Linked DNA regions of Homo sapiens: region 2 is reported to be linked to region 1. The links are microRNA targets in miRTarBase. Many come from high-throughput screens and were not tested one by one. Region 1 holds a microRNA gene; the other region holds the end of a gene's coding sequence.

Evidence for each region. The annotated mature microRNA hsa-miR-424-5p reads CAGCAGCAAUUCAUGUUUUGAA and lies in region 1 at 2,811-2,832, opposite strand. An mRNA with a match to its seed (bases 2 to 7 or 8) in the 3' UTR can be bound and repressed. Matches are read on the target gene's strand: a 7mer-m8 pairs with bases 2 to 8, a 7mer-A1 pairs with bases 2 to 7 and ends in A, and an 8mer does both.
Region 2: miRTarBase lists ZBTB16 as a target of hsa-miR-424-5p. Seed matches in the 3' UTR shown: 7mer-m8 at 1,184-1,190, 7mer-m8 at 2,564-2,570 and 7mer-m8 at 2,832-2,838.

The regions. Positions count from the first base shown.
Region 1 is chrX:134,543,870-134,548,020 of GRCh38, forward strand. It overlaps MIR424 (microRNA 424), which reads right to left and starts at 2,842; the gene lies at 2,745-2,842. MIR503HG (MIR503 host gene) reads right to left here and starts at 2,761. Exons shown (of 3, transcript NR_024607.1): 1 at 2,683-2,761; 2 at 845-928; 3 at 1-130. MIR503 (microRNA 503) reads right to left here and starts at 2,529; the gene lies at 2,459-2,529.
Region 2 is chr11:114,249,934-114,253,933 of GRCh38, forward strand. It overlaps ZBTB16 (zinc finger and BTB domain containing 16), which reads left to right. Exons shown (of 7, transcript NM_006006.6): 7 at 393-4,000. The coding sequence ends at 622. Among named protein-coding and RNA genes, the nearest start is that of NNMT, 44 kb to the right of the region's middle.

The sequences.
Region 1 (4,151 bases):
ATTTTCTTGAAACAGGAGTCTTCTGTGTCCAGGTCCCCGCCAACAGTGTTGATGTAGTGTTCCTTTGTTGGGGGGAAAAAAAATCAGTACTGCTAACTGGAGATGCTGGATGCCTTCAAGAAAAACATTCCTGTGATTTAAATTTTTAAAAAATTATGTTCAATTCTGGTTTATCAAACAACCTGGGTATCTTGTCTCACAACTTACCGAAATGTCGAATTTTAGATTTAGAGTTAGACTAAGCTCTTCCTAGTTTAAGGGCCACGTCTGTCTAATAAACTTTATACAATGCCACGTGCACGCAGCTTCCTCACTAACAAATAACATGTGTTGGGGAAAAAATGAGAAAATAGTGGAAAGGTGCCTCCTTGGAGGTGGTAACATCGGGTCAATTAATCAGCTGAGTATAAATTGATTCACTTTATACAAGTCTCCCACACATTATGATGCACATTTAGCAACGCTGAAAAACAATTTAAAAGAATACCTTAGGGAGTTGTTAAAGAGAATTTATAGTCTGGAACGAATTGCAATCTTCTTAATTGACACAGAAATGTTTGGCTAAAATATTGCTTTATTCACATTTTTGTCCTTGGAGGAAAATCTAGGCACACTGCAACTTGGATCGTGTAAATAAAGGTACAAGGAATGTTTTAAGTCAGAAAAGGGCATCACGCAGTCAGGGGGCTGTGTGGACGAGCTCAATTTCGATGCATCTCGGGAGACCCGGGCAAAAGGCCGCTTGGATTCCGGGAGGCAACGCCCCCAAGTCAGGATCCCTTGCTCGCCGCCCCCAACCGGTCAGGATCCCTGGCTCGCGTCCCCAACCGGTTCCGTGTCTCACCTGGGTCCTGCAGGCGTCCACTGGAGGAAGCCGGATGGCGCGGGCTTGGTCTTTCAGGAAGGCTGGCTGGCACCGGGCTTCCTTCTGGCTCCAGGGGGAACCGTACAGGACGGGGAGAAAGGGGGAAGCTGGTGAGAGGCAGAAGGGGCGTCACAAGGTGGCTCTCCCACCCCCAAGTGCAAAGGCAGGCGGATGCGGGGACCTGTTCGCCGTTTGAGCCTGGAGATTGCGGGCCTGAGGGGCCCTGCGCTGGCCGGCCGGGGCGAGGCGGGAGCAGAATGGGGATTTCTAGGCCGCCGGGTCGGGCTGGTGGGCGGCGCCCCGGGAGCCTGAGGGTCCCCGCCGGCCCGGGAGGGACCCGAGCCGCCCCCGCGCACTGCCCCGGCGCAAGGGAGTCTGGGAGAGCCAGCGTCTCGGGCCGCTGAACCCGACTCCCAGCTCTAGACTTCGGAACCCCGGCCCCACCCCAAACTGGGAAACTTCTAGGGGCCCACTCCTGGCCCCGGGAAGCCCAGTTCCAGGCAGCCCATTCAGACCAGAGGAGTTTGGGTGTCTTTTTTTTTTCTTTAAGGTGACAAAAAGTGTGGGAAAGATTCCACACCTCCCTCCCCACGCCCGCCAATGGTCCTTTACCTGTCCATGTTTCAGATTAAATAATTAGCTCAAGAGATTTGCACAGAAAGCGAATTAGCCCTTTTCTAGTCAGACTGTTAAGCTCTCAGGCGGGCAACTCGGAACCCCGTTTCCTCACCGAAGGCTCAGGAGGCCAGCCCAGTGAGGGATGGAGGTGGCTTTAGAGGGCGACAGTTGTGCAGCACTCATGAGCAACAGTGCCCAGGACTTTTGAAGTCACGAAGGGCTCCTGAAATCGACAGCTCAGGTCCCGCCCCTGGGGCGACAAAGGAGTCTTGGGGGCGTGCCGCCGGGTTGGAATTGTGGTAGCAGATTTTTGGGGGAGGAGGGCGCAAAGCAGCTAGAAACGCACATCCTCATTCTGGAACTATCCCAAGGCCCCCATGCTTCTCAGCAGGCCTCGGGCTCAGATTGGGCGGGTTGGAGCCTTCCACCCCACCTTGGGTTCACCCGCCCGCAAGGCCTCGCGCCTCACCCGATCCTTCTAGAGTGCTGGAGCTCCACGGAGCCTCCCTAACCCCCCAGCAGCGGGGAAGGGAGGGCGAGGGAGTGGGGAAGAGGCCCGTTATTTTGATCTTTCCTGAATTCTTAAGTCCCTTCCATACCCAGGACATGAGCGCGTTTACCAGGAACCGCAGAGAGGTGTAAAGACTTCTTGCAGCTGCTCACCCTTCCTCTCCCCTTACTCCTTTTCCAGTCCTCCCCACCCCCCAGCATTTCGTGGGTGGGGACTGAAGATAGGTTTTCTTCGTTGTCCTGTGGGTGGTATTCTGATTGGGAAGGGATTTTTTTCAATTGTTTACATTCTACCTGAGCAGGGAAAGGGGGTGCCAAAATGAAGCATCATTCACGTCCAGTCACATATGCAGAGACGGGGCAAACGTTTGATGCAATCTTGGGTCTCGCTGCTCCCGGGGCCGACACCGCAGGCGATGGCCTAAGACTTACCTGCTGGGTAGGCCCGAACGGCAGTCCCAGACTTACCCTGGCAGCGGAAACAATACCCCAGAGCACCGATCGCTCACTGCAGAACTGTTCCCGCTGCTAGGGCACGGCTGAGCGCGGGCACCGCGTCTCTCCTCGACTCGCACCGCCTATGCGCCCCAGCCTAGCCAGGAATACTGCCCTCCCCGGACTACAGCCCTGCTGCGTGGACAAGGGCGAGGACCCGCCGGAAACAGAGACGCGAGCCCCCGCCCACCTACCTGCTCCTGAGCCGGCCTCGCGGGGAGCGGGCACCTGGTGGCAGGAACACGCGTCCGGCAGACCCCACCTTCTACCTTCCCCACGAGGGGGTATAGCAGCGCCTCACGTTTTGAACCATTTAGAACACTTCAAAACATGAATTGCTGCTGTATCCCCTCGGAGTCAATGAAGGGGGATCGATCTGGGGGTACCTGCGGGTGAATAAAGACTGGATGACTGAAGGAAGCCCCGCCCCACCCCCTGGCAAGGAATAGGGCAAAACTTATGACTAGGCCACTTCACTCCAAGTTAAGGTACTTCTTATAACTTCACCATTTGATTTCCAGGAGCTGCAGGTGGAGCCGAAAGTGTGGCTCTCAATTTTTTCCCCTGAGGATGAATCTTGGAACAACGTAGTGGGTGAAAAGCAGAGCGATGGGGGATACGAATTAGTGTGGAAGAGAATCTAATTACTTCTGAAGGTAGACGAATAAGGTTAAGTAGAGGCAATTGGACATCTGGATCATTCTTGCCAGTTTCAAAGTCTTGGTGAAACTTCTTCCTGCTGCATATTACAAGTCTCATTCATTGTCCCCATTAAAAAAAAACAAAAAACGAAACAAAAAAACAACCTTTATTGGAAATGGACTCAGATGACTGAAAGAAAATAACCAAAACCTCACCGGTAGCTTCAGCTGATTCTTACACTATCGTTGCGACATATACATCTATCTTTAAAAGCATTAGATGTCCTAACTCACTGCTAGTGTTTTTATTCTTAAACACCCCAGCTGAGTTATTTTAAAGAGCTCCAAACAATGACAGAGAACTTTCTGTAGATGAAATACCAGTTTACATATTAAACTGGTTACTCAAACTTATTTATAATTTATACCTATCAATGTCATCTATCAAAACATAAATCAAAAAGTTTAAATACTTGATGTCAAGTCGCTCCTTCCTGTTTCAAGCAGCTCCACAGAAACTTTCATGTCCTGAAATGGCCGGCACTGCGCATACTCCTTAATGATTAACTCATTAGATACCACTTTTTCCTTTTTAAAATGGACACATATTAGCAACAAGTCACATGCATGCCCTCTTTTTGTTTGAATACAATATTCAATTAAGCATTAAAAAAAAAACCCACTCTGAAATCCTCAATCACAAACCTAAAAGTTAAAACAACAAAATCAGCACTAACTGTAATGGTTTTGAAAGTTAAATACATTTCAGCACAAGTAATAGACATTTAAATTATCCAACTGTAAGTATCTTGTTACACTTACAAATTAAGTCGGTTTTTCAAAACCAGTACAATGAATGTTAAGTGTCCTATTTATTAGTTAATAAAATGTGCAGAGTATTTAATAAGATTAAGTATCGAATTTATAACATCCAGACTGAGATCCAGTGGTAACAAATACACTATGTCATGGTAAAAAAAAAAAGTCATTAGTAACAATAACCCCATTCCCTAAATTGCGAC
Region 2 (4,000 bases), not on the chromosome of region 1:
AGAGCCATTCCTGAGGACTTTGGGGCCTTTCTCTTTCTAGACACCCATTTTCTTAATTAGAAAGGGAAAAGACTGTGGCCTTGGGAGAGTTAAGAATAGTAAGACAAGGAGCTGGGCAATCCAGTAGTCAACTAGCTACATGTAGCTATTTAAATTAGTTACAATGAAATAAAATTAGAAAACTGTAGAGCTGCAGTCGCACCAGCCTCATTCATAGCCATGTGTGACTGGTGGCTGCCGTCTTGGGTGGTGCCTTCATTGTCCCAGAAAGTTCTGTTGGAGCAAGCCCAGCTGGAGGAACCCAGCTTCCCTGGCACGCCTGAGGGTGACATGGTGCCCTCACCGCCTTCTGTCTGTCCTCACTTTCTCCTGCCCTGTCCCTCCGCCCTCAGGTGAGAAGCCCTTTGAGTGTAAGCTCTGCCACCAGCGCTCCCGGGACTACTCGGCCATGATCAAGCACCTGAGAACGCACAACGGCGCCTCGCCCTACCAGTGCACCATCTGCACAGAGTACTGCCCCAGCCTCTCCTCCATGCAGAAGCACATGAAGGGCCACAAGCCCGAGGAGATCCCGCCCGACTGGAGGATAGAGAAGACGTACCTCTACCTGTGCTATGTGTGAAGGGAGGCCCGCGGCGGTGGAGCCGAGCGGGGAGCCAGGAAAGAAGAGTTGGAGTGAGATGAAGGAAGGACTATGACAAATAAAAAAGGAAAAGAAAAAAAAAAACAGAAGGAAAAGGAAACCTGGTAGCTTTTTGGCCTTGGATTCTCTCTGGGCTCCAGATGACCTGGATGCCAAGCCACTGCCCCTCCTCTGGGGGCCTCCACCCTCCTCTCCCGGCTGGAGGTTTGCCTGATTTTCTGGGATGGGGTTGGGTATTTTGTTCACTCAAATGGTGGCACATTTTTCTCCTTCCTTCACCCAGACCTTCTTTTATGTGTCCAGAAATGGAGGCTAGAAAGCAGGTGAGAGGTCCTCTGGTCAGAGCCACACGGTCTGTGCCGGCCTTCCTCCACCAAGACCCCCAGGAGATGAAGGGAGGGAGGAGGTGAGCCAGAAGGGCGCTCCCCTGCTGATGGGTCTGGGCTGGGTCACTAGCTGCTCAAAATGGCAGCTCTAGTTTGCTGGCGGCTGACTGGGGAGGAGAAGGGCTCTGTTTCTCTTCCCACCACTCAGCCCACCTGCTGCTTTCCTCTGCTTTGCCACATCTGGGTGTCCCCCGGTGGTCTCTGAGAGCCTCAGGACCCCTGCCCCTCCTCCAGCTCTTTGTTCCCAGCCTCCCCTTGACTCCTGTCCTCCAAGTCCCAGGGGAGTCCCAGCCCCTCAGGGACCTGGCGGTGTCTCCATCCTTCTCCGGTTCCCTAGTGGGATAGCTGCCTCTGACTTCAGGGTCCCTCCTACCCTCAGCCTTCTGAGAACACAAAACAAATCCAATACCCCACCCTAGTCCAGCACCATCGTGAGCAAGATTCCTGCTGCGCTGCTTCCAAAATGGAAAAGCATCACAACTAAATACCTAATATCCTACCAAACAAACCACAGTCCCTACGTAGCCCTACTTCAGTCCCAGGAGAAGGAATCCATGAATGGGCTGAGGTTCCGAGGGTAGGTTGTGGATGTCTTTCTCTAGAGGGGTCCCACACCTGGAAAAGAGGACACCCAGCCCGTGGGATGAGGGAAGCTGGGCAAGGGAGAAAGTTGTTGAGTCACACTGGGGACCCCAGATGTAGTGAGCTCAGCAAGAAAAGCCAGGTCCAGAGAGAGTCGCACAGAATTCCTGACTCACAGCGCCCCTCGGTCCACAGTGGAGAGGAGGAGGAGGAGGAGCAGAAGGAGGGGGAGGAGCTGCAGGAGGAGGAGGATTTGAAAGCGCTTTGGCCTTGTGTTATGTTTTGCTTCTTTTCTGTGTCCCCTGTTAGCACATTGTACTTGAATTACCTCAGTTTTTTGTGACCTCATGAGCTTTCTTAACCTCTGTATCTCTTTTTCGGTTGGGGCTTGGAGGAATGGGGAGGGTGTTCTTTTCTGTTTCTTGTGTAAATTAATAGTTGTTTTTATAGACTTCAGCTGGTCAAGACCCTCCCCGTGCCCCTGGAGACCAGCCTCCCAGCTGGCAGGAACTGTGCAGGAGGAGTTGATACTCAGGATCTGAATGTGAGGGCCGAGGAGGGCGAAGAGCGTGGGTGGGGAGGGGATGTTGCTTTGGGGTCTCATGGTCCCCAGAGGGCACTAGGGAGTCACTTTTGGCTCCGCTGGTGCATGAAGTCACCTGTGGCCACCATCCGTTCCGCCTAAAACACTCTGGAGAGAATCCCACCTTTCTTACAATTTGCTGGGCCATTGAGGTTTGAGGGCCTGTGTTTGGATCCTTGCAACTGTGTGGTCTCACCTCTGTGCGTGCATTCTCATTGCCAGAATTGGTCTATTTTCACGGCTGGTCTTTGGGGAGGGGGGCGGGATCCAGCCTTTGTTTTGTTGTGTTGGGGTGGGGGTGTTGTTTTTCTAAAAGCTACCTCTTATGTTTGTCCAGTTGTTCTTTTGTTCCTTTCCCGCCTCCCATTCTGCTGCTCTTCCTCCCTCTTTTCCCCAACCTCCCCCGACCCTCCTGAATTTTGGAAAGCACATTTGCAATATTCGTGTTTGCTTTGGGACGGACCCTCCGTTTCATCTCATGCTTTATGTGTAAGAGTTTTTTATTATTATTTTTTCTTTCCTTTCTCTCTCTGAGAAAGTTGTGGCTGCGTTTTGATCTTAGGTTTTACAAAGTGGTTTAGGGAAGCGGTTTTGGGGAGAAGGATCACGAGGAATGTAGGGAAGCCGGAGGGATGGGTGCTGCTGCGACGACCCCCCCGTCCCTCGGCCCCAGCCCTCCTGCCCTCCCCTTCAATCTCATCCACCAAATCTGAAGGCCTTAAAATTGTGTGTTGGGAGGATGTGAATTGGGAGGACGGTGTCACTAGACTGTGGATTAGGGATGGTAAAGTAGGGAGGATGCTATTTTGCAACTATAGTAACGACTTAGTGTTTTGGAAAGGAAAAGAAGTTAAACTTGAAATACGTGACTAGAACAGTTGTCATGTTTATAATGTGAAAAGGGTGAAATCATTTGGGGGAGGGGCCGTCTGTAAGAAATCATTATGCACTATGGCTTCCTCCTCTGGTCTGGGAAGAAGCGGGGACTGGCTGGCCCTCAGGGGATCTGTAAATCCCAGAAAACAGTATTTTTAACAGCAAGATGTCATTCAACATTGGTGGGGAAGGAAGAGAAAAAAATCAAACTATTCCATAGAACTAGCTGGCCCCCTCACTCCCATGCCCTTCCCACTCAGCCTGGGCCCCTCCCCGCTCCATTCATAAAAGCTGAGAGGGTTGAGCTAATCTTCACAAATTGTAATATTTTTGTAGTATCTGTTAGTTCCTTCGTCAGTTCTGCAGAACCTTGCCCTTTCCTTTTGTAATGTGAATAGGAAGACAAAAGACAAAAAAAAATCCACCACCACCAAAATATCCCTTTGTACATGTATGTGCGTGTGCGCGTGTGCTTTGTGTGTGTGGTTGTGTGTTAAATCATGCAGTATTGTCGTAATCTGGTGTTGCAGCAATGGATGGTACTAAATCAGCACCTGGATGCCCCACCCAACCCCGTGGGCCCTGCAGACCCCAGTAGGGAGGTATGGGGAGAGCTCAGGGGAGTGTGGTTTCTGAGGGCTACTGTCTGGGGACACCTCTGAACTTACTGTACCTTCCTCTCCCCATGAAGACACCTGAATAGAGTCTAACATGCCTCTTCTCCAACTTCCTACCTACAACAACAGAACAGTTCTAATGTTGCACGGCCTAGTGGCCAGGGGGCAAGCTAAGAGGCTGTCTGGAGGCTTTATATGTGTCTGGAGTTAAGGGGAGAGGAGGAGGGTAGACAGGGGTCTCTCCCCAGGTGGGATCTGAATATCTGTCCTCCCCTCTTCTTCATGCCACCTGACTCCTTCGGCCCCCTGGCTG